Linked DNA regions of Homo sapiens: regions 2, 3, 4, 5 and 6 are each reported to be linked to region 1. The links are microRNA targets in miRTarBase. Many come from high-throughput screens and were not tested one by one. Region 1 holds a microRNA gene; each other region holds the end of a gene's coding sequence.

The links. Region 1 holds the annotated microRNA hsa-miR-324-3p (CCCACUGCCCCAGGUGCUGCUGG, at 1,269-1,291, shown strand). A microRNA usually pairs through its seed, bases 2 to 8, with sites in the 3' UTR of a target mRNA and lowers its output. Matches are read on the target gene's strand: a 7mer-m8 pairs with bases 2 to 8, a 7mer-A1 pairs with bases 2 to 7 and ends in A, and an 8mer does both.
Region 2: the mRNA of RBM26 is a reported target of hsa-miR-324-3p. Seed matches in the 3' UTR shown: 7mer-A1 at 2,206-2,212.
Region 3: miRTarBase lists ZNF432 as a target of hsa-miR-324-3p. Seed matches in the 3' UTR shown: 8mer at 898-905.
Region 4: the mRNA of ATP5IF1 is a reported target of hsa-miR-324-3p. The part of its 3' UTR that is shown has no 7-base or 8-base seed match.
Region 5: the mRNA of ZNF23 is a reported target of hsa-miR-324-3p. The part of its 3' UTR that is shown has no 7-base or 8-base seed match.
Region 6: the mRNA of CACNA1I is a reported target of hsa-miR-324-3p. Seed matches in the 3' UTR shown: 7mer-m8 at 2,639-2,645.

The regions. Positions count from the first base shown.
Region 1 is chr17:7,220,599-7,224,598 of GRCh38, reverse strand. It overlaps MIR324 (microRNA 324), which reads left to right and starts at 1,220; the gene lies at 1,220-1,302. ACADVL (acyl-CoA dehydrogenase very long chain) reads right to left here. Exons shown (of 20, transcript NM_000018.4): 4 at 3,923-3,995; 5 at 3,769-3,833; 6 at 3,541-3,675; 7 at 2,917-3,061; 8 at 2,518-2,647; 9 at 2,297-2,422; 10 at 1,734-1,932; 11 at 1,362-1,466; 12 at 869-955; 13 at 724-786; 14 at 530-631; 15 at 356-453; 16 at 206-278; 17 at 47-119. RefSeq lists an enhancer at 3,762-4,000.
Region 2 is chr13:79,316,975-79,321,081 of GRCh38, forward strand. RBM26 (RNA binding motif protein 26) reads right to left here. Exons shown (of 22, transcript NM_001366735.2): 22 at 1,894-3,736. The coding sequence ends at 3,647. Among named protein-coding and RNA genes, the nearest start is that of RBM26, 87 kb to the right of the region's middle.
Region 3 is chr19:52,030,506-52,034,612 of GRCh38, reverse strand. ZNF432 (zinc finger protein 432) reads left to right here. Exons shown (of 5, transcript NM_014650.4): 5 at 1-3,235. The coding sequence ends at 893. Among named protein-coding and RNA genes, the nearest start is that of ZNF614, 4.2 kb to the right of the region's middle.
Region 4 is chr1:28,237,555-28,241,661 of GRCh38, reverse strand. ATP5IF1 (ATP synthase inhibitory factor subunit 1) reads right to left here. Exons shown (of 3, transcript NM_016311.5): 3 at 3,562-3,825. The coding sequence ends at 3,684. Among named protein-coding and RNA genes, the nearest start is that of ATP5IF1, 3.5 kb to the right of the region's middle.
Region 5 is chr16:71,444,574-71,448,680 of GRCh38, reverse strand. ZNF23 (zinc finger protein 23) reads left to right here. Exons shown (of 5, transcript NM_001381984.1): 5 at 1-1,084. The coding sequence ends at 588. Among named protein-coding and RNA genes, the nearest start is that of TLE7, 4.6 kb to the right of the region's middle.
Region 6 is chr22:39,685,854-39,689,960 of GRCh38, reverse strand. CACNA1I (calcium voltage-gated channel subunit alpha1 I) reads right to left here. Exons shown (of 37, transcript NM_021096.4): 37 at 226-4,107. The coding sequence ends at 3,556. Among named protein-coding and RNA genes, the nearest start is that of CACNA1I, 120 kb to the right of the region's middle.

The DNA of each region.
Region 1 (4,000 bases):
TCAAGGAGAGGAAAGGGAGGGGCGGAATGGTGTAGAGCTCACTTACTGACAATCCCCTTCTTGTGTTTTATCAGCTTGGCCTCCACCACAGTGGCAAACTGCTCCAGAGCCCGTACTGCCTTAAGAGATGGGGACAGTGCGGGGCTCAGAGGGGCCATCGGCTGCAGTCCCTGATGCAGGCTCTCCTGGACCCCTGGCCACTTACCAGCTCGCCACTCCGACTCAACTCCGGGTGGACAAGTCCGCTGAGACTCAGGCCGCTGCCCAGCCCTGCCCGCCTGAGAGGAAGAGGGAGAATGACTGGTTAGTTGCCATACACCACCCTGCCCTCCCCTGGCTCTGGCCCTAAGCCTACCGCCTCAGCTGTTTGCCTGCCTCTCCTAGCAGGAGGCCAGCATTCCCAAAGGGATTCTTTAGAGCACTGCCAAGCCCAGAGAGCTCCTTTCCTTTGTCCTATGGGGGAAGAGGGTCCAGCAGTCAGGACTCACTGTCCTCCCCACCTCTACCCCCACCCAATTCTCTGTCTTACCATACAGCCCTGCAGAGCCACAAACAGCCGAAGAATGTCATTTGTCCCCTCAAAGATCCGGAAGATGCGAAGATCTCGGAGCACACGCTCTACTCCAGGTTCCTAGCACAGGGCCACACAAATTATATGCCCGTGCTGAGATGTGCCTACCCACCCCTGGCCCAGCCGAGGCTCTGCAGAAGACCGTCCTGTACCTTCATGAAGCCCATACCCCCCATGATTTGGATGCATTCATCTGTCACCTTCCAGGCTGCCTCCTAGGGACAAAGAACAGATGAGACTGGTTTTGGGAGCTGAGCACCCAAACTGGACTCCCTCCCAGCATGCCTGGGACCTCACCGAGCCAAAGATTTTGCTGATGGCGGCCTCTATCTGGAAGTCCGTGGCTCCCTGGTCCATGTTAGCACTCACCATGTAAGCCATGGACTGAGGTTGCATAGTTGGGACATGGGAAGGAAAATTGCAAAGGGCTTTGTCAGACTTGGCCTCATCACCCAGATCTCCAAGATAAGGGCTGACCTAGCTTGTCAGGTCAGGCAGATACTTGTTCTGGGTCAGTTCATCAGGTGCTTCCAGGTATTTGTTTTCTTAAAAGGGGTGGATGTAAGGGATGAGGTAGAATTAACTTCTGGTACTGCTGGCAGGCACCTGAGCAGAACATCATTGCTGTCTCTCTTCGCAGAAGCTGAGCTGACTATGCCTCCCCGCATCCCCTAGGGCATTGGTGTAAAGCTGGAGACCCACTGCCCCAGGTGCTGCTGGGGGTTGTAGTCTGACCCGACTGGGAAGAAAGCCCCAGGGCTCCAGGGAGAGGGGCTTGGGAGGCCCTCACCTCAGTTACATACTGCAGCATAACCATCCGTGCCAGCTTCTCCTGGATCAGCCCAAAGTTGTGAATTTTCTCCCCAAACTGGGTACGATTAGTGGCATGATCTACCTGGAAGAGGGTCCACACATCCCGCTGTGGTTCAGTGTGGTTCTGCAGTCTCCCTAGGAGAGGGGCTGGGCTTGCGCCAGAGGGATGGGTTTTGCATACAACCAGAGTTCAGTCTACGCTGGATGGAGACCTAAGCTAGCAAGTCGGGCTGCTGGTAGGGGAGGAGTTTCTAGTGTAGGGAGTGCCTGCAAGTGATCAGGGACACATGGCAAGGGGGACAGTGAGACTTCTGTTTGGGTTACCTAGGGACTCGGGCAGGGTACTCACCGCCTTAGCAATGATGCCTCTCATGGTACCTGCCAGGGCCGCAGCCATGCCAAACCTTCCATTGTTGAGGATGTGCATGGCAACCTTGAAGCCACTCCCAACCTCACCCAGCACGTTCTCCGATGGCACCCGTACTCCATCAAAGAACACCTCTGCTGTGTTTGAAGCCTTGATGCCCATCTTCTTCTCAGGGGGCCCACTGTGTCAGGGCAGTGTGGGAAAGCAGAGGTGTGTTCAACAGGTTGTCACTGGGGGAAAAACTGCTCCTTCGCTCCTTATGCACCAGGGAGGAATGACGACCACTAGACTATTAGAGGCTACAGCCACCACTTCCCCTCAGGCCCTGAGGGCTAAGGAGGCCTGGCTATGTCCTATTTTGTGTTGGACTTGGTTGCTGGAGCCAAAACTTTAGCTCAGTTGCATACATATTAGTCCCAAAGGCCACATTCAGTCCACCTGCTTTGGCTTTTGCACACGTCCCCAGGGTGACTTGCAACAGCCATCTGCCCAGGAGCCCAGTCCTGCCCCTCAGTCCTAAGCTCCCCCAACCCAAATTCACTCACTGGGTAATGCCCCCGAAGCCCCTCTCCACCACAAAAGCTGTGATCTTCTCCTTCACGGCTCCTGTGGCTGGATCTGTAACTGGTGTCTTGGCAAAGACCGTGAAGATGTCTGCTAGGCCCCCATTACTGTGGAAGAATGGGATATTCAGGGCGTGGAGGACGGGGAGCAGTGGGGCCTGGAATTGGGCGGAGGAGAAGGGGAGAAATGGGAGGCAGGTTGCCTGATCCAAAGCTTGCTTCCATTGAGGGTATAGTATTTTCCACAGGGGCTGGGCACAGCAGAGGTTCGGATGGAGGCTGCATCTGACCCGCTTGAGGGCTCGGTTAGACAGAAAGCGGCCACAGTCTCCCCTGTTGGGGAGAGAGCTACTTTACCCCAAGTTCTGATGAGCTTCAAAGTCCCCTCGGCCCACTTCCCCATCCCTCCAGCAGGCAGTTCCCCCTTAACACCTGGGAGTATCCAGTTCTTTTGCATGTCCCAACCAGCACACTGTGATGCCTCCCCAAAACCTTCCCCCAACTGAAATGCTCAGCCATCTGATAATCTAAGTGCCAACTGGCCTAATCTGTGCCAAGCCCAGTGTGCCCCCCAATCCCTGGCTCTCCTAGGGTTGCCTCACCAGATGCCAGCTTGGGGAGGTATTTTTCTTTCTGGGCCTTTGTGCCAAAGAGCAGGATGCCTTTGAAACCGATGCTCTGATGGGCCCCCAGGGTAATGCCCACGCCAAGGTCATGCATGCCCACGATCTCCACCAAACGGGCGTACTGGAGGGGAAGCAGGAATCTGGGGTTGTCACTGGCTGCAGGGGGACCTGACCTTAACAGGAGAGTGTGGGCAACAGGGCAGTTCCTGACCTAGGGCAGTTCCTGACCTAGGGCAGTGCCTGACCTGGGCCATCCCCAGTGTGTAGAAAAGAAGTGGGGTGTGCAAAGGGCACAGCAGAGAATGCTGGTCTGTCTTAGGTCTAGGTAGGAGGGTGACTTGCTACTAGTCAGTCTATTGTTAGGCAATCCCCAACTTAGAGATTTGTAAGGACTTGGGAACCAGGGTGAGGCCCATGGCTCAGGCCTAGGGGACTGCATGTAAATTGTGTTATGTTTGGACAGTTAACATCCATCCCACAGGCACCCAGGGCAGGTGCTTAGAAGAGACCTTAGCCCTAGTCTCTAGGTCTATGGCAAAAGAGCTGAGTCTGCCAAGCTGGGGTATGGCATACTGGGATGTGGCGATAGGGCGCCCTCACCTGGGTGTTGCAAAGGCCCACACCACCCAGCTCACTGGGCACTTGCAGACCAAAGGCCCCCAGCTCCTTGAGGCCCTGCCAAGTGGTCTCCTCCACCATCTCCAGAGCGTCATTCTTGGCGGGATCGTTCACTTCCTGGGGAAGGCACAGGATCCCACATCCAGGCTCCTTTTGAGCTTAACATCTCCAAACACCTCACCAGGGACCAAGCCCCGAGTCATTCCTTACCTCGAAGAAACGGGACACAGGCTCCACCAGCTCTTTAAGAAACTGTGTCTGCTCTTCGTTGAGCACTGCAGAGGGTGGGGGACAGGCTGGTCAGGCCAGGCTGGCAGGGGAAACCACCCTGGCCCCACCCAGCTCTGATTATCCCTTCCCTTACCGGACGGGTATGGGAACACCTGATCTGTGGTGAGCTGGCCTTTGAACATTCCCACAGCAAAGGACTTAGATTCCTGGG
Region 2 (4,107 bases), not on the chromosome of region 1:
GGTTTGTTTTTTTTTTAAAAAAGAGTAAACTGAGATGGAAAGGACAATTTAAATCCATATTGGTGAGAGAACTGACTCTATCTGCATTACTAGCAAGTACTTCTACTTTAAAACTCTGAATTTAGAAGGAAAATGAAAAGTTACAATTGGAAAAAGGAAGTGCTGGTGAATACAGAAGTTCATCTCTATTTTATAGGCTGAATGTAATTTGTACTGGCAAATGCAAGCATGTAGGAACACTATACACAAAACTGTACCAAGAGGCATCATATAAATTACCATAACCAAATCCAAGTTGTTTCCAATGATAAAATGATAGAAAACAACAACGATAACAGGGAGAACTGGCTTAGATATATTAAATTGTTTTGTCTCAAACACTAATATAGTACCAAGGAAACTATAGATGTAAAAGGGACCTTAGAGATCATCTAGTCCAACTCTTTATTTTACAGACAAGGAAACAGCCCTGGATAAGGCAAGAGACTTGTCTAAGGCCACAGAGTTAGTTGCAGAATTGGGACCAAAAACTAAATATCATATAAACCTTGTCTAGTATTCTAAACTAGATCACCTTTGGATATAAAAATTAGTGGGATGGACTAGACTGGTGGCTCTTAGCATTTCTAATCATATACACTGACAGAAACCAAAAGTGTATTTTACCTCTGAAACAGACAACATTTATTAGTCCAAAATATTAATGCCTTACTAAATGTTGTGGAAATTCCACTAAGCCTACATATGTGTATACCTCCATCAGTACTTGTAACCCCACAAGTGACAAACTCAAACTGTATCAATTGCTTAGCAAAATGCTCCCAGTGACTGAGGAGATCTTCAAGAGATTTTTGGAAAATTGATAAGAATTAACAAGGGAGGTATTTGTCACTCTATGATTGGATATTTAAATATGCATTCATTCATTCATTAATTCATCCAACAAACATTTGAGTGCCCACTATAAGCCTGGCTTTGTGATAAGCACTAAAGATAAAATGATGAATAAGACATGGTCCACCTTCCTAGAGGAGCTTGTAATCTAGTGGGGAAGACAGACATAAACCAGATAAATTATATTACAATGTAAGTACTGTAACAGAGATATGAACAAAGTGCTGTATTAAAAGGGAGGGTATAAGTATGAACTGGCGAATGACCAAGTAGTCTGCTAATTTTGTGCAGTATCTTTGAGGCAAGAACTACCATATTTACTATAAACACAATCTCATGTTCCACTCCATCAATAATTAGGAAAGCAGCAGCATCAACGTAGAGTTAAAAAAAAAAAAAATTGGCACTGAAATCAGAATGCTTGCATTCAAATCTATTTTCACCCACTAGCTATGACTGGGCAAATCATTCCATCTCTATTAGCCTAAGTTTCCTTATCTATAAAATGGAAATGAACAACTCCTTCCTAAGTTTTAAATGAAAACATATGAAAGTACATGTAGAGTGCTAGTATTTATAAACAAGTAAAAAATTCAGTAGCAACTTAATACTAAGTAATATTTATAATTAAAATAATATTAATACTATGAATAATATAATTGTAAACCTAATTAATGTTGGTAAGATTTAATCTCCATTCTTTGGGATCACGCTGAAATATATTTGTCTTCTGATTCATTCAAAGCAACATGGCTTAAAACATTTTAAGTTCTAGGAAAACTGATTAGCTATTCATGGACTGAAATAAACAGAATATGTATTTTCAGTTACATTGTAAGGGAATTTTATAATTTTTGAAATATCAGGCTAAAACATACTAATCAAATTATAAAGCCAAAAATCAGCATGGAGATTTAACTGGCCTTTGAAAGATTTACTTTCTTTGTAATACCTGTTTGGTGTAAAGAGAAGAAACGTGAGCCTCTGCCAATTTGGCACCTTTCACGACTACTAAAAAGAAAAGAAAACAAACTTACCTAATGAATCAGAATAGCACATAGTCAACATACAAGAGACTACATAAAAATAGATCTTTGATTTAAATATATAAGTAAAAATAGTGACTTTTTGAGCAAAGTCACTATTTTGACAACTGAAATCTGATTTTGAAATTTTAAATATAAACGTAGACACGAATTGCAAGGCAAAGCATTTCTATGAAATAGTGTTACCATCAAGAAAATACACACAACTTCAACCCCAATTAGGGGTGTATGGGGAAGAAGAAAAAGAACAGCATCCTTAAGTTACTCCACTGGCAGAAGACTATGGTGGTGGTGGAACAACAGCTTTTGATTGTGAGGACCCCAATATGGAAGAAAGTAATTTTTTAAATGTGATTTTTTAATATTATCACTATAATCTCAAGAGAGGCAGAAACACTTGCAATCAAAATGATGAATTTGAAAATATAAATATGTAATCTCCCACCCCCATTCTACAAAGAATGCATTTATTTCCTGGAAACTGCCATATCAACTTTCAATGATCATGTTCACTTGCAAAAGAAATCCACTTAAAAAAATCACAGTATTGTTGCAAACATCAAAGATTTTTATACAAGTATAGGAAGTACACACTTAAAATATCAGACTGGAACACTTACCAAACAGTGTTTTCCTAAAGTAGTATCTATAGTACATTTCTTTATTCATATATCTTCAAATGGTCAAGTTTTCTTTCATACATCCAAAATGTAATGTGATGTTTTCTTATTCACCAAATGTTAGCTCTACTTGCAGTCTGGTTCCAAACTAATCAGCCTGCTTTTAAATTTTAAGACATTTGTTGAAAATTTATAGGATCAAACCAAACTCAAGTGGTATAATTTTTAAACATTGGATTGTACATTATTGTAAGGGTACCAGTAACCATTATTATTAAGAATAAGTTAGTGATTATAGCTCCTTTTGTGATAATTGGGGGGAAGGGTAGATCACCATCTGGAATGGTCTATTTTAATTTTTTTCTTTTCTTTTTTCTTTTCTTTTTTTTTTTAAATCAAGGAACATTGTCTTGGCTTTTTTTTTTTTTTTTTTTTTGTCATTGCTTTTCTCTTTTCTTTCCTTTTTTTTTTTTAAAGAGACCATTCCACTTTATTATAACATCTGGATGCATAAGGACTCATGTAAAGCAGTCATACACCATTATCATTAAAACCCATATGGTAAAATACATACACAGTCCAACAAAAGGCTAATACATAGTAAAGCCTAAGCATACTACTATGTAATATTATAATACATAACTTGGAGACTTTAGTTAGAGTACTATGTTATCTATTCAGTTTTGAAAACATTCATTAAGATTTTAAATGCAAATTCATTCCTTATTTGGAATAAAACAAAGTCCTCTAAGTTATAACAAGTATTGGTCATAAGTTTTCAGACCTATTCATTAAATTACAAAGAACCCAAAGAATTCTGTGATGTCCAGTAGAAGTATGTAATAAAAACATTGCATATGTTTCTAGTGTGATGTCTTTAGCAATTGTTTACTGAAGTAAAATGCAAACATCAATCTTTCAAAATACAAGATCAGAAGGTAGTTTTCTTCTTTTTTGTCTATTTGTGAAATCCATCTTCATCACATTTTACCAAAAATTGTTTTTACAAATATGTAAAAGTACATTAGATAATACTAATGAAACACAGGTAGAGTTCTAGCATATGCAGATCAATGATCAGTCAAATCATCTTCTCCAAGAACGAGATTCATTGTCCTCTTCTTCTTCATCATCATCTTGAAGTAATGAGTCATCCACCAAAGACTCTTCCTGAAACTTTAGGTTAAAATGTATTTAGGAATTTACCCAAAAAAAAAAAAAAGAAAAGAAAAAAAAGGTGACACTTTTAAATACTCATCTCTCTCAACAGAGTTGAATACAAAAGGTATTTTTATAGCTAGAACATTCACAAAACAAAGAAAAGCAACATTTAACCACTCAATGGTTTCTCTATATGATCTATTCTATTGCTTGCATGAAACACACTAAACAAATATCAAATAAAGCCTTTGTACATGCCATTTTTTCCTGCCTCTCTTTAGCAAATTACGCCATCTTCTGTACCTTTAAAATATTGGTCAAACTTTTTAAAAAAGAAAACAGTAAGTTTTCTCTAATTTACCCTCCTAACCTTGAATACTAAAATC
Region 3 (4,107 bases), not on the chromosome of region 1:
CAAAACACTATGTCATCATACATCAACGAAATCATACAGGAGAGAAACCATATATATGCAATGAATGTGGGAAAGGCTTCACCATGAAGAGCCGTATGATCGAACATCAACGAACTCATACAGGAGAGAAACCCTACATATGCAGTGAATGTGGAAAAGGCTTTCCCAGGAAGAGTAATCTTATTGTACATCAGAGAAATCATACAGTAGAGAAGTCATATCTATGTAGTGAATGTGGAAAAGGTTTTACTGTGAAAAGCATGCTCATCATACATCAGCGAACTCATACAGGAGAGAAGCCCTACACATGCAGTGAATGTGGGAAAGGCTTCCCCTTGAAGAGTCGGCTGATTGTACATCAGCGAACTCATACTGGAGAGAAACCTTACAGGTGCAGTGAATGTGGGAAAGGTTTCATTGTGAATAGCGGACTGATGTTACATCAGCGAACTCATACTGGAGAGAAACCGTACATATGCAATGAATGTGGAAAAGGTTTTGCCTTTAAGAGCAATCTTGTTGTACACCAGCGAACTCATACTGGAGAGAAACCCTTTATGTGCAGTGAATGTGGAAAAGGCTTCACCATGAAACGCTATCTCATTGTACATCAGCAAATTCATACAGAAGAGAAATCTTGTATATGTAGTGAATGTGGAAGAGGCTTTGCCAAGGAAACAGAGCTTGCTTTACATAAGCAAGTTCATACTGGAGAAAAACCTTATGGATGTAATGAATGTGGTAAAGGCTTCACTATGAAGAGCCGTCTAATTGTTCATCAACGAACTCATACAGGAGAGAAACCCTTTGTATGCAGTGAATGTAGAAAAGCCTTCTCCTCAAAGAGAAATCTCATTGTACATCAGCGAACTCATAATGGAAACAAACCCTGACAATGCAGTGGACATGTTCATGCCTTTGGGAAGAAAATCTGCCTTGTACAACATCAGAGATTTCACAGTATAGATTTTCTACATGTGTACTGAGTATGAAAAATCATATTTCAAAATCCAGTGTTATTCACTAGGATGAATGCTATCAATGTCAGAAAGGCTTCAACATGAATTCAGGCTCTGAATTCTTTGATGTACCAATGTATAGAAAATTACTCATCTGAGAGAGAGTCTGTGGATTGGGGGTAACCTTTCATTTGTCAACCTTCATTAAAACTATGACAACGTCCACATGACAAATGTGTAAGGTACATAGTCCTTTTGCAGAGAATCTGAACTGATTACATACAAACAAATTCATGCAGAGAGAAAACCACGTTAGTAATGTGAACTGATTAAACAGCAGTGTGCTCCTAGCATACATGCATATAGGCAGTGTAGAGCAGCCTGTTGCTAGATTTTCACCCTTGGAAGACAATGCAATTTCCAGGAGCGAATTTTAATGAATGCAGAGAATGCACTAGTGCCTTCGGTGATTAATTACCTCATATTTTATGTCACAATAAACATGTAGGAAATAAACTTGATACATCCAATGCAGAAAAGTCTTGAAAATTTTCTAAGTAACTATGTCTTGAAAAGTATTTACTGAGATAAATCTTACAAAGGAGTAGGCTAGGAAAGCCTTCTATGGGAAGAAAGACCCTATCTCTTCAGTGATCATAATAGATCATCAATGAACTTACACATACTAGCAGCATTATCATGGGAAAGCCTTTGCCCAGAAATAAAACCTTAACAGTTGGCAGATATATTTCATACTGGAGAACAAGTTTCAGATGGCAGTGAATACACGAGGATTTCAGTGATACATGCTGCCTCATCATCATTACTTCATACAGAAATAAAACTTATATGAAGAGTAACTTTAAAAAGGATCAGGAAATTCATGAAGTAAAAAAGTCTCATGAAAATGATACATAATGCCGGGCATGGTGGCTTGCACCTGTAATCCCAGCACTTTGGGAGGCCAAGGTGGGTGGATCACTTGAGGTCGGGAGTTCGAGACCAGCCTGACCAACATGGTGAAGCCCCCCTCTCTACTAAAAATACAAAATTAGCCGAGCATGGTGGCTCACGCTTGTAATCCCAGCTACTCTGGAGGCTAAGCTGGAGAATCACTTGAACCTGGGAGGCAGAGGTTTCAGTGAGCCAAGATTGCGCCATTGCATTCCAGCCTGGGCAACAAGAGCGAAACTCTGCCTCAAAAAAAAAAAAAAAAAACCATATTTGAGGACTGTCACAAATCTAAACTCATGATACACTTGATATCTATTCTGTGACAGCATACCTTGCATCATATTATCAATGATTCCATAATTGTAAAGCGGGCTGTTCTTATCACTGATTAAATTTTAATCCTATATATAACACAGGTGTTTTCTGTGCCAATCTGGTGTTATTTATTAGTTCTTACATATTATAGGCCCCAAATTTATTTTTTTCAATTTACTGATAAATGTAATTCAGTATATTTGGATGTGTTTATCCAAGTTACTAGGTACCATTATGTAGTTTACAAAAATGCCTTAAATGTTATTTTTCTAAAATTTGTTTTGAAATAATTCTAGATTCACAAGAGATTACAAAATATACAAAAGTTTCCTGAGTATTCTTTGCTTAGCATCATCAATGTTATCTTACATAACCATAATAATAAAAACCACGGAGTTCTGCTCTTGTTGCCCAGGTTGGAGTGTAATAGCACGATCTTGGCTCACTGCAACCCCGCCTCCCAGGTTCAAGAGATTTTCCTGCCTCAGCCTCCTAAGTAGCTGGGATTACAGGCACCCACGACCACGCTCGACTAATTTTTGTATTTTTAGTAGAGACGGGGTTTCACTGTGTTGGCCAGGCTGGCCTTGAACTCTCGACCCCGGGCGGTCCACCCGCCTCAGCCTCCCAAAGTGCTGGGATTACAGGCATGAGCCACCACGCCTGGCCTCCTCTTGCTACCTCTTTATACTCACACTGTCCTCCCAATATGACCCATGGTAGCCACTGATCCCATTACCCTAATTTTGTTATTTCAAGAATGCTATTAAAATGGAATCGTAAGGTACGCAAGCTTTGAGATAGGGCTTTGTTCACTCAGCAAATTACCCTTAAGATCTATCCAAGTTGTTAGGTGTCTAAATAGTTTTAATTTTTGTTACTGAGTTAGTATTCTTTTAAATGGATGCACCAGGGTTTGTGTATCCATTCACTGTTGATGGACATTTGGGTTGTTTCCAGTGTTTTGCTGTTATAAATAAAGATGCTGTGACTATTTGTGTACCCGATATTGTGCGAACGTTAAGTTTTTATATATTTGGGATAGACACTGGGGGCATGACTGCTGGCGAATATGGTAAATGTGTTTAACTTTATAAGAAATGGCCAAACTCTTTCCCAGAGTGGCTGTACTAGTTTACATTCCCACCACCAATGTGTAAGCATTCCATGCCCTTTCTAGCTCTTGGCATTGCCAGTGTGCTTTAGCTTTCCTATTAGGTGTGTGGTGGTATATGATCATGGCCTCAACTTACACACCCCTAACACAAAATGATATTAAGCATCTCTACATCCACTGAGAACCATATCAAGTAAAATTGTAACTTTTGCTTCCAACCAGCAAACCCAATGTTTAAAACTCAAAAGAATATTATATTTTATAATATATTTACCCTTTCTGTTCCTTTTTCTTCATTCCTGATGTAATATTTCCTTTAGTTATTTCCTTTTTGTGCGAACTTCCTTAATCATTTCTCTTTGAGCAGGCCTGGTGGCAAAAAATTATTAGTTTCCCTAGAAACAGGGTTCCTGTTTTCTCTATCCAGAGTTATTTCCCTTGATCTAATGAGATTTAATCCAGTTTATAAATGGTGAGTTCTCTTTATAAAAGTAATAGACATTTGCCATATAGTATTGTGGCAGAATTCAATCCCTGACTCCATATTGAGTAATTTACTTCTTTGAAAATATTTTTTGAGCTTCTACACCATGGCAGGCATGTTGTAGGCAATGGAGACACATCAATGAACAAAACAGGCAAAGTGCTGGCTTTGATATGACATACAGTCTGGTGAAGGAGACTGAGTAAGATAAATACAAAATCGAATTCAGTTAAGTGCTAGGAAGAAATATAAAGCCTGGTAAGTTCATAGATTGTAAC
Region 4 (4,107 bases), not on the chromosome of region 1:
ATTCTGCGATTGTTAAATAACTTCACTGCATAAAATTCTATAGAACTCTTTCAAATATATAAAAAAAAGCACCCCAATGATTCTTTTTTTTTTTGGAAACAGGGTCTCACTCTGTTGCCTAGGCTGGAGTACAGTGCCATGATCACAGCTCACTTCAACCTCAGCCTCCCAGGTAGCTGGGACTGCAGGCCTGTACCGCCATTATTATTATTATTATTATTATTTTGTATTTTCTGCAGAAATGGGGTTTGGTCATGTTACCCAGGCTGGTCTCAAGCTCCTGGGATCAAGTGATCCGTCCGCCTTTGCCTCCCAAAGTGCTGGGATTACAGCGGGGAGCCACTGCGCCCAGCCCAGCCAGCCCGATTCTGACCCAGAGGGTTTAGAAGTTGCTTAGACAGATCTGCTCCTGTAAGTTCACAGAACTCCTCTGGCTACTGCTGTCCCTTTTTTTCCTGAGTCTTGTTTGCTGAAATCTTCTTGAGATTCTGTGAGACAATAGCCCCTATTTCTTCCAGTAAATTACTCTTTTTCTTCCCCTTTAGACAGCCAGTGCTGGTTTCTGTTACATGTAAACAAAAAGGATTTTATTTTTTATTTTTTTAGGCTAGTCAAGTGAAGCAGTGGGAGGCGGAGGACAAAAAGAATTTTGACTAAGGCAATAAATATATTATACAAGTGAAGTATTTCCCAAACTGTATTCTGTGGAATGCTGTGTTCTCAAATGTTAACAAGTTCCATACAAGAACCATTTATTTCTAAATTCTAAAGTCACATTCATATTATGAATTATATTAAACATATATAGTTACTTTTATTATACCTAATAATCTGTCTTTATAAAAGTGTTTACCCAAAAATGCCAGCAGATTCCATGAGAAACTACCTGTACTACAATGATCGTCAAACTTTGGTGCATACATGACAGAATCAACCGGAGGGCTTGTTAAAGGATTGCTGAGTCAAACCCCTCGTTTCAGCAGGTTTGTGGTGGGGCCTGAGAATTTACATTTCTTTTTTTTTTTTTTTTAGACGGAGTCTTGCTCTGTTGCCCAGACTGGAGTGCAGTGGTGCGATCTTGGCTCACTGCAACCTCCGCCTCCCGGTTCAAGCGATTCTTCTGCCTCAGCCTCCCGAGTAGCTGGGACTACAGGTGCCCGCCACCATGCTCAGCTAATTTTTGGATTTTTAGTAGAGACGGGGTTTTACCATATTGGCCAGGCTGGTCTCGAACTCCTGACCTTGTGACCCACCCACCTCGGCCTCCCAAATTGCTGGGATTACAGGCAAGAGCCACCGCGCCCTGCCGAGAATTTGCATTTCTAACAAGTTCCCAGGTGATGCTGACACTGCTGGCTCATGGAACCACTGCTGTAGTATTTTCCAAATTATCCTGATTCTAAGAACCACCTATGACCTGTGCTGTTTTTTCAGTGGTTACTGGCTCATGTCACATAAATTCTTTTAGGATTCAAACATGTTTGTGATATTACTCAGTATTTACATCTTGCTTTTACTGCAGCATGATAGAAAAATTAACCACAGGTATATCATAACAAAAAGACCATGAGTTACCATTTTCACAAAGTTCAGATATATTTAAATTAGCCTATTTAATCTTTTTTTGGTTGTTGTTGAGATGGAGTCTCACTCTGTCTCTCAGGCTGGAGTACAGTGGCACAATCTCAGCTCACTGCAACCTCTGCCTCCCAGGTTCAAGTAATTCTCCTGCCTCAGCCTCCCGAGTAGCGGGGATTACAGGTGCCCAACACCACACATGGCTAATTTTTGTATTTTTAGTAGAGATGGGGTTTTGCCATGTTAGCCAGGCTGGTCTTGAACTCCTGACCTCAGATGATCCGCCTGCCTCGGCCTCTCAAAGTGCTGGGATTACAGGCATGAGCCATCGCACCCAGCCTATGGTACACCTTTACTGAGGAAACAATTCAGGAACATCACTCTTAGTAAGGCAATTGTTGATTATAAGTCAAAAAAACACCATCATGTACAAATTCAGGGGATTTTGTATACCTTGTTTTTTTGGTTACAAATATGCAAAATTAAAGATGTTTGCTAATACTTGTTTCCAATTTTTAAACTTTTCAAGTGTTGCACTGTTAATAATGTTAAAATAAAAGGCATTTGACTTAGTATGATTGTTTCTTGAACTTCATCTTTTCAGGTTATTTTGTTGCTGGCCACTTGCAAGATTTATAGGCACTACTGAGGCCTCAGTGCTGAGATTCAGCAACATTATAATCATTATAATTCAAAGTTTAGTTTTTTGTTTTTTGTTTTTTTTTTTAAAGAGATGGGGTCAAAATGCTGCCCAGGCATGTCTGGAACTCCTGGGCTCAAGCAATCGTCTTGCCTCAGACTGCCAAGTAGCTGAACTGTAGGCACATACCACACCTGGCTGTGTTCAGTTTCATGGGCAAGTCAAACTATCTAGTGTTTTGTCTGTACAGACAAGGTCAATGCGACTTCTCCAAGCTTTTATCACTCAATGGTCCTACAGGCCCTTGTGAGATAGATAGGGTCTTAGAACAAATAACTCATTACAATCCTGGGCAAATACTCTACTGAACTGGTGAACTGAAAATGTTTTGCTAATGGCCCAAATGTCACCTCAAATTTTTTTGCCTAGAGGAGTTACACAACTAGTTTGTATAATAATTTAGTTATACTAGGCCCTCAAGTCTAATTTGAAACAAAATACTTGGCAAAGCAAAATATAACCTAAGAAATAATTCTGATTTTCTGCTAATAACAGACTTGGTTTAGTAGTCAAAAAACCTGGACACAAGTCTCACTGCCAAGGTGCTGAGTGACTGTATAAATCACATGATTTCTAATTCCAGTTCTCTCAATCTACAAAATTAGAACAAGGATGACTAGCTCATATTAAGTATCCTCTAAACCATTTTAAAAATGCAAAATGCTGTTTTAACTGATGGTACTTTCAATTGTATCTTTTTTTTTTTTTTTTTTGAGACAGAGTCTCATTCTGTCACCCAGACTGGAGTGCAGTGGCACAGTCTCGGCTCACTGCAACCTACACCTCCCAGGTTCAAGTGGTTTTCCTGCCTCAGCCTCCTGAGTAGCTGGGACTACAGGTGCGTGCCACCACACCTGGCTAATTTTTGTATTTTTAATAGAGATGGGGTTTTACTGTTGTCCAGGCTGGTCTTGAACTCCTGACCTCAGGTGATCCACCCACCTTGGCCTTCCAAAGTGCTGGGATTACAGGCATGAGCCACCGCACCTGGCCTAATTGTATCTTTTGAAGCAATGACTCCTTCGGATCTCCAGGATCCTCCTGATCTTTATGCTTCAGATTGGGATTTATCCTTCAGGAAGCTTTCTCTGAACACCTCTAATTAGACGGGGAGGGGTACTTTGTCTGTGTCACACCTATCCCCCCAACTCGTGTTGTTTCATAGCACTTATCACACTGTGCATTGTCTGTGGGTTCCTGGATGCAGGGACGCCTCTAATCCATTTTAGCAGTCCATTGGTGTCTGTCTATCTCTTCCAGATAGAAGAAGGCATCAAACACAGTTCACTGATGACAATTTATTATAATCTGTTAGTAGCACACAGACAAATATTAGTTAAACCAGAACCATGTCTACACAGAAGTGGGCAATGACATGTGCCATTCTATGGCACACGGTGTGCACTTAATCATCATGTTTTAGCATTTTGATCTTCTGCTTATGGCGCTCAATTTCTTTCTGCAGACGCTCAATCTCCTTCTTATGATGAACGATTTCTTCTTCATGGTGTTTTTTCAAAGCTGCCAGTTGTTCTCTACTCTGTGCTCTACAAGGACACGGTGGCTCAGGGTTTAATTTCAATCCTTCACCCCAAAGAGATCTCAAAGCATAACCTGTAATGTCTAAGCAAGGAATAGGAGTTCCAATTCCATGGGAGTCTAGCTGGTCATCCTCTTCTACTCCTCAACTAGTGAAAGAATACCCCATCTTAAATTGAGGTGTAGCCATCTTAAGAAGACCAAAGAGCTTATTGCTTTCAGATTCCTCTTTAAAATAGAAAACTCCAGAGAGATGTGACACAAGTCCCTAATACCTTATGAGGGGAACA
Region 5 (4,107 bases), not on the chromosome of region 1:
GAGTGTAATGAGTGTGGAAAGGCCTTCAGCGTTAATGGGAAACTAATGCGGCATCAGAGAATTCACACTGGGGAGAAACCTTTTGAATGTAATGAGTGTGGGAGATGCTTTACTTCTAAAAGAAACCTACTTGATCATCACCGAATCCATACTGGAGAAAAGCCCTATCAATGTAAGGAATGTGGGAAAGCCTTCAGTATCAATGCCAAACTAACTAGGCATCAGAGGATACATACTGGGGAGAAACCTTTCAAATGTATGGAATGTGAGAAAGCATTCAGCTGTAGTTCTAACTATATTGTGCACCAGAGAATCCATACAGGAGAGAAACCCTTTCAGTGTAAGGAGTGTGGAAAAGCCTTCCATGTTAATGCCCATTTAATTCGGCATCAGAGAAGCCACACTGGGGAGAAACCCTTCAGATGTGTGGAATGTGGCAAAGGCTTCAGCTTTAGTTCTGACTACATTATACATCAGACAGTCCACACTTGGAAGAAACCCTATATGTGTAGTGTGTGTGGGAAAGCATTCAGGTTTAGCTTCCAGCTCAGTCAGCATCAGAGTGTCCATAGTGAAGGAAAATCCTAATAATGAGAAAGATATAGAAAACTCTTAAGGTTAATGCCAAAATGGATCAAGTATCATCAGATTCATCCATTGAAAAACCTCCAAGAGGGCATGAATATGGCAGAGTCTTCATATGGAAACAGTTTTTATTCTATTCAGTTTAAATCAGGAAAGGATGACCAGTTAAAGAGAAACATCCAAAAATAGCTTTGTTTTGTACCAACAGGAATTAGAAAATATAATGAAAAGATTTCGTTCCCAGCAGCATCAAGAAAAGTAGATTTTCTAGAAATAAACAGTTATGGAGGACTTGTATGGAGAAATTTAAGTCTTCACTGAGGGCCACTTTACAAAGGAAATTTGAATAAATGGAGAGAGAGAGAAGCCTTGTTGTTGGATAGGAAAACCCGTACTAAAGATACTCTACCTACATTAATTTATTTGTTTAATTTTTGACAACAAGCATGTATTACTTTTGAAAAGATGAAAAATAAAGATTTATTTAAAAAAGGAAAAAGGTATGAGTACATTTTTAATTTTCATGTAATTGAGAAAACCTTTCTAAGTATTAGATGAAAGCTAGAAACTATCCACAGGGTATGTACTGATAAATTGACTACTCAAAAACTAAATATTCCTGTATGTTTTTGTTTTAAAGTTTAAAAGATAAAGCGCAAAATGGGGAAATACTTTTGTAAAATTTGTGATATAAAAGTGTAGTATTTGGGCATGGTGGATCAGACCTGTAATCTCAGTGCTTTGGGAGGCTGAGACGGGAAGATTGCGTGAGGCCATGAGTTCCAGACCTGTATGGGCAACATAGCAAGATCCCATCGCTACAAAAAATAATAAAAGCCAGGCGTGGTGGTATGTGCCTGCAGTCCTTGCTGCTTGGGAGGCTGAGGCAAGAGGATCACCTGACTCCAGGAATTCGAGGCTGCAGTGAGCTATGACCACCACTGCACTCCAGCCTGGGTGGCAGTGAGACCCTGTCTCTTAAAACATTAATATCTAAAGATAAATAATTTAGACACACTAACAGGCAGCTTTTAAACAGATACTAAAAAATGACTGTTAAAGTAAGAAGAGGTATTCAATCTCAGTACTCTAAGGTGTGAAAATTAGTAAGTTTTTTTGCATATTACATTGTTATATATGCATACATGTGATACTATGCAGCTGTCAAAAATGACATTTACTATAGATGCCCTTTATATAAGTATAAAATGTAGTCAACAAGATAGCATGTTACAGGGTTTCTATTTTGTAATAACTGGAACTCTTGCATAAACACATGGCTTTTCAGGTCCTGAAGGAAGGTGGCTACCTTGGATTCCCAGTCTCATTGGTGGTTTTCAAGGTCTCTGATGAAGATCTTGGAAGCCTCAAGATACTCTTTGGAAGGGAATCTCTCAACACCTTAAAAAATTCTAAGCAATAGGCTGGGCGCAGTGGCTCACGCCTGTTATCCCAGCACTTTGGGAGGCCAAGGTGGGCGGATCATGAGGTCAGGAGATTGAGACCATCCTGGCCAACATGGTGAAACCCCGTGTCTTCCAAAAATATAAAAATTAGCCAGGCATGGTGGTGCGTGCCTATAGTCCCAGTTACTCAGGATGCTGAGGCAGGAGAATCACTTGAACCCAGGAGGCGGAGGCTGCAGTGAGCCAAGATCATGCCACTGCACTCCAGCCTGGGCGACAGAGTGAGACTCTGTCTTAAAAAAAAAAGATTCTAAGCACTAATAGGAGCAGGCAAGCTAACTATCAGGAAGCTGAAGAACAGCAGGCCCAATAGTAAGTAGTAAGAAAGGGACATGATAACTTCTGCCATCCCCCAAGTGCCACACACCATCTCCTTACCATGCCCACCTGTGAGCTCTGTAAGGCATATGCTGTCTCTGGCCCCCAGGCTCCTTAGAACAGAAGCTAGTCTGCATTTAGTTTAGAATGAGGTTCAAAACCACTGGAGGTTTTCTGAATGTGGGACAGTTATTTAAGATAATTGGACTGGGAGCATCACTCTTCCTTCAGATCCTCATGTTCCAGGACTTCTGACGTGCCACAGATAAAAACAGGAGAAAAGCAATCGCTAGTAAATGAGACTTAACGATCACCAGCAAACCCCAAATCCTCATAAACATCCCTGTAGGCCCACAGATACTCAAGTGTCCTCAAAGTCAGACAGACGAATGAGGCTACACAGAGTGACAAGGAGTAGGGAGGGTGGAGAATTGAAGAGTGCATCCCCTACCTAAAGAAGGCAGCCTCAACTCAGCTGTAGCAAATTCTGGGTAGGCAGCAAAGCAGTTCCAGTAATGCCAAATATTCTGGGTCTTCAAAAAGTTAGAAATCCGATTTTAAAAAATCCGAAATCTCTCTCTGTCCCTCTTTTTGCTTGTTAAGATGAAGGTTATTGTCCCAGAATCCTTGAACAATTTTTAGTAAAAGTCCATTTCTAGATGGTGGTTTTCTTCAATAAATCATACAGCAGAATCTATTTGTGTACACCAGGACAGTATAATAGTATGGAGAAAATAGGGTCATCACCTGTTAATGGTAGTAAAGAAACACTGCTTTTCACAAGACCTTTGATACCAAATGTGTCGGTTTTTCACACGATTCTCCAATTCTCTGCAGACACCAACTGGGTGTCCTACAATTTTTTTTTTTTTTTTGAGACAGTCGCTCTGTCACCCAGGCTGGAATGCAGTGGCCTGATCTCGGCTCACTGCAAGCTCCACCTCCCGGGTTCATGCCATTCTGCCTCAGCCTCCCAAGTAGCTGGGCCTACAGGCACCCGCCACCACGCCCGGCTAATTTTTTGTATTTTTAGTAGAGACGGGGTTTCACCGTGTTAGCCAGGATGGTCTTGATCTCCTGACCTCATGATCCGCCCACCTCAGCCTCCCAGAGTGCTGGGATTACAGGCGTGAGCCACCGCGCCCGGCCCTACAATTTTAACAATTGACACTTTCAGAGTAAGTGAAGACACCACAGGTTAAGGGCTCACTTCCACATGACTGCCCTGCACTTCAGACACAAGTTACAAGTAGAGGGTCCCCAGGTTACCCATGCTTCTGTGTGATAGGGCTACAAATTGGGGGTTCCCATGACCCCCTTTTCCAGCTCAGTAATTTGCTAAAACAGTGCACAGAACTCAGGAAAACATGTTACTATTACCATTTTGTTGTAAAGGATACAAATGAACAGCCAGATGAAGAATTACTTAGGGTAAGGACTGGAGGTTGGGTTATCTTCTCAGACAAATGACGTGGTCCCACCCTTAAGTTTGCTGTAAGTCTGCTCTACGTTCACAGGACTGTGAAAGGGTGGGGCCCCAATCAGAGGTAGTCAAACTGAATTTTATCCCCGGGAGAGTCCAAGGACAGCTGGGGGAGAAATGCCTAGAAAATGCATAATATATACTTTTAAAAGACACATAATCATCATTTTGCCCATTTCCAAGTTTTGGATATCTTTTTTTTTTTTTTTTTTTTTTTTGCACACAGATGAGAAAACAGGTCTGAAGTGTCTTCAT
Region 6 (4,107 bases), not on the chromosome of region 1:
AGCAGCAGAGTATGGGAACCAGGCCTGCCTCCTCCCCAGCTCCACAGGCCCCCAGCCACCCAGCGGCCATGAGAGCACCCTGCCATGAGCATTGTTCTAGGTCCCCGACGCCCCAGGCCCCATGCCTGAAAATGGGGGAGGAGACACTGCCACCCCTCCCTTGAGAGAAGCCTCAGCTTGACACCCACCCCGCTGGGGAAAGAACAGCAGAGACACACGGAGAAATTCTTAAATAGGCTTCTGGGCTTTTATTCAAAACAACACTGGTGGTGGCTGCCGCTTGGTTTCTCTACACCCGGGCCATGGGCCAGCAGGTACCAGCGCCATCAGCAACTAGGAGGGAAGTTCATTCACACCATAGAAACTGTACAGCGACTGAGAGTGCTAGAGTCACGGCGGCGGCCCAGGCCGAGGGCTTTCTGGAGGAGGTGGCCTCTGCCTCCTCAGTAGGCTGCAGCTTGGCCCAGGCTCTGCCAGGAACACTGATTATTGCACAAAGACAAAAAAGAGTATGTGTATCTGGGCTAAAGAGCAGCTTCTAAGACCCCAAGCCCTTACACAACGCAGCAAACGGGGCTGGGGTTGGCCCTGGAAGCGGAAGGCTCTGAGCTGAGGATTTGGGGGAAGACAGCAGACGGGCTTTACACACTTTGTCCTCCTTTAAGGGGCTGCCTGGTGCCGGAGAAGGTAGAGCAGGGGAGAGGAAGAGGATTTGGCCAGACTGGGCCGTCTCTGCACAGATGCCAAGGTGCCTGCCCACCACCGCTCTACGGAGCCCAGCAGACAGCTCAGGGACCTGGGTCCCCACTTTCCCCACAGCCAGGCCCATGTGGGTTAGGGCAAGTTTGTGCTTTTGTGATAGACACAAGCCTGAGGCCATGGCCCCAGACCACAGGGTTGGGGAGGAAGGAAGGGCCCTTTGCCCAACCCTCACCCATGTTGACTTGTCCTGGCCAGTGGATCACAGCTTCCCTGGTTCTCATCTCTGTCACCCACAGGAACAAGGTCAAGTGCCTGGGATCGGCAGGTGGGGCCTCCAGGAGCCTGGGACGGGCCAGGCCATCTCCCAGTGCTCCCTGCAAGGAGCTTCTCTGCCTCTGAGCTCAGCTCTTCCACCTTCTCCACACTCCCTGCTCTGTGGACCCTGGAGCCTTCGCTCATGCCCATCCCTTTGCCTAGAACACCTGCCTCGAGGTGTCTGCTTGCAGAGTCACACGGTTCAGGGTAAGGGGAGGTTTCACGTCAGACCTGCCTAGGACGTGTTCCCTGCTCAGCTGCTCTGAACCCATGTGACAACAGGAAAGGCTGCTCAGTGGAGTCGCAAGATGACCTGAGGCTGCTTGACTGGTGTCTGATCCTGTTAACTTGAAGCCCAACCTTCCACATGGTATTCCCAGGCCACACAGCCCCTCTTCTGGGCTCCAATACACGTGTCCCTCCAGCAACACGCGGACTTGCAAAAAGTCAAGTCTGTCTGCTTCCCTCCAACTGCGAGAGCTCAGGGTCAGCCAGGAGCAGTCAAGCCTGCCCAGCTCCACTTCTTCCCCAGACAAGGTACCTCGTTCCACATAAAACCACCTCTGTGGAAAGGGAGGCAGGGCTGAGGCTCTCTGGAGCGGGCAGTGTTGGGCTTGGACCGAGCCATCCCCACAGGTCTACCTGCCCCCAGGGAGGACTGGGCAGTTCCTTCCGCCACAGGCACCTTGCTCAGCATCACAGCTCTAGGGTGTGGAGTAGGGCCCTCCACACCACCCCAGCTTCTTTGCTGCCAGGGCCCTGAAGCATCCTGGGCTGGCTGCTTCCCCTCTCCAGGGCTCAGTTTCCCGGGTGGGCTTGACAACCCCTCCCGGCCCCCTCTCCCTCAGCCCAAAAGGGAAGGGCGCACCCCACACCCTCACCAGCCCGGCCACAAGCTGAGTTCTTCCAAGTCAGAGTTTGGGAACAAGAACAAGGCCCCCCCTTGGCAGGCCCCCCTGAAGCCCTCGGAGGGGGTCTTAGCAAAGGCAAGGTTATTGCTGAAGTACAGCATCTGCAAACTCGTGGCCCCTGCAGCCTCTCCAGATCACTGCCACCAACATGCTCCCAACCTCCTTCTTCAAACTGACTTCATGAAAGTCACTCCCTTTTTAAAAAGTAGCCTTGACCTAAGCAAAATGTCTGTGAAATCACGGGTTCAATGCATTTTTTTCCCAATAAATAGTGAAATAAATGCGTAACTCTTCAAATCAAACACCCAAGTCTAGAACCCGTTTGGGAAGCACTGCTATAGTGAAAGCTGAGCTGCAGTTAGGGGCAGCGGGGAGGAGAGACAGGGGCTGGCAGGTGGGGTGGGAAGATGTGGCCTCCAGGTGACGCGAAAGGCTGGGCATGGGGATGCGGCTGGACCCAGGGCCCAGGCAGGTGCCCCCACCCCTGCCTAGAATTCGGTCAGAGCTGCTTTGCCTTGAACCTACTGGGGCGGGGGCATAGTTGCTCAGGACGGGGACAGCACAGTGTCCAGGAACAGCCACAGCTCAGCGCCCATATGGGGGATAAAAGGCATTAGTGGCTGAACAACTAACTACCTGAGCCCAGGGGCACCTGCAGGGCAGCTGGAGCCAGCCGAGACCAGGCGGGTACCCTAGCCCCTCCAAGCAAGCCACTGCCGGCTCAGTCTCCCGCACCCTTCCTCTGCAGGCTGCCTCCACTCCTGCTCCACCCACCCCCGCCCTCCTGGGGGTGGAACCCACCCCCTCAGAAGTGCTCAGGAGCTGGGGACCTCACCTGGGGCCAGAGCCCCAGCTCAGCCTTGGAGCTGCTCTCCATCCCCTACCCCAGGCCTAAGGAAACACAGCTACTCACCCCTGATTTTTCTAAAGAGAGACATCTAACCGGTGGACTAAGGGGATGTGTGTGCTCTGGGGTGTCTACGAAAGACTTCACAATAACGAGACAGTCAGGATGACAGGACAGACACCCCGACACGTGGGAGCCACGTGGGATCTTAGCAGCGTTTCTTCTTTAAAGGAAAAAAAACACACACACACCCTGAATTGCACCTCTTCTCCAGGGCCTGGTGCCCTCAGAGGCCTGAGGGTCCTCTCCAAGCTACTCTTAACCAGGGAGGAGACATCAAAAAACACAGCTGGGACGCCCCCGCAGGACATGTGCCCTGGGGTGGGTCTGGCCAGAATCCCAGAGCATCAGACAAAAGCCCCGTCCAGGCCCTGGCCCACCTCCCACCTTTAGCACTTTCTGGAAGTCATAAGCTCTCAGTAAAAAAAATAAATATATATATATATGTCTGTCTATGTGTGTGTGTATACACATATATATATATATATATATATATATGCATATATATATATATATGTATGTATATGCACTGGAAGGGCCACCATGGGCCACGCAGGCCTGGCTAACCCAGACTCCGCTCAGCCCGGCTGTCGGGCGCCTGTGCCCTGCGGGCCCTGCGCGATCCCAGGTGTGGACGAAGTATTGCTGTCTGCTCCTGGCTCCTGAGGTAAAGAAGGTGAGACGGGGCGGGCGGTGGGCGGCCGGGGGCCCCTGCGACCCTCATCTCTTCCTCTTGCTGGCGGCGTCTCCCGGCTCCAGCTCTCCGGGGAGCGGTTGCGGCGGGGGCGCCAAGGGGCCCAGGCCCATGGGCAGCGGTGCCCGGCCGGGGGGGTCCTTGCTGCGGTCCGCGGCCCACGAGGGGCTCCGGGCCAGGCCGTGGGCCAGGGCGGCGGCGTGGGGGCGGCCGGGGGCGGCCAGGCTGCTGGTGCTGCTGAACTTCCTGGCGGGCGTGAGGCCGGGGGCTGGCGGCGGGGGCGGCGGGCAGAAGAGGGAGGTGAGCGAGAGGCTGCTGAGGGTCTCCGAGTGCTCGCTGCCCGCGCCCCCGCCGCCCGCGCCACCGCGGCCCTCCTCGTCCGAGGGGTCCATGGAGTCGTGGTGGGTGCAGCCCGGGCTGGTGGAGCCCCCGCTGCTGTGGCTGCGCTGATGCGCCCGCAGCCCCCGCAGGCTGAAGAGGCCCCGGCCGCGCAGGCTCAGGCGGCGGCGAGCGGCGGGGGACAGGCCGGCCCGGGGTCCTGGAGCAGGCGCGGGCGGCCCCAGGGCACGCCGGGGGCT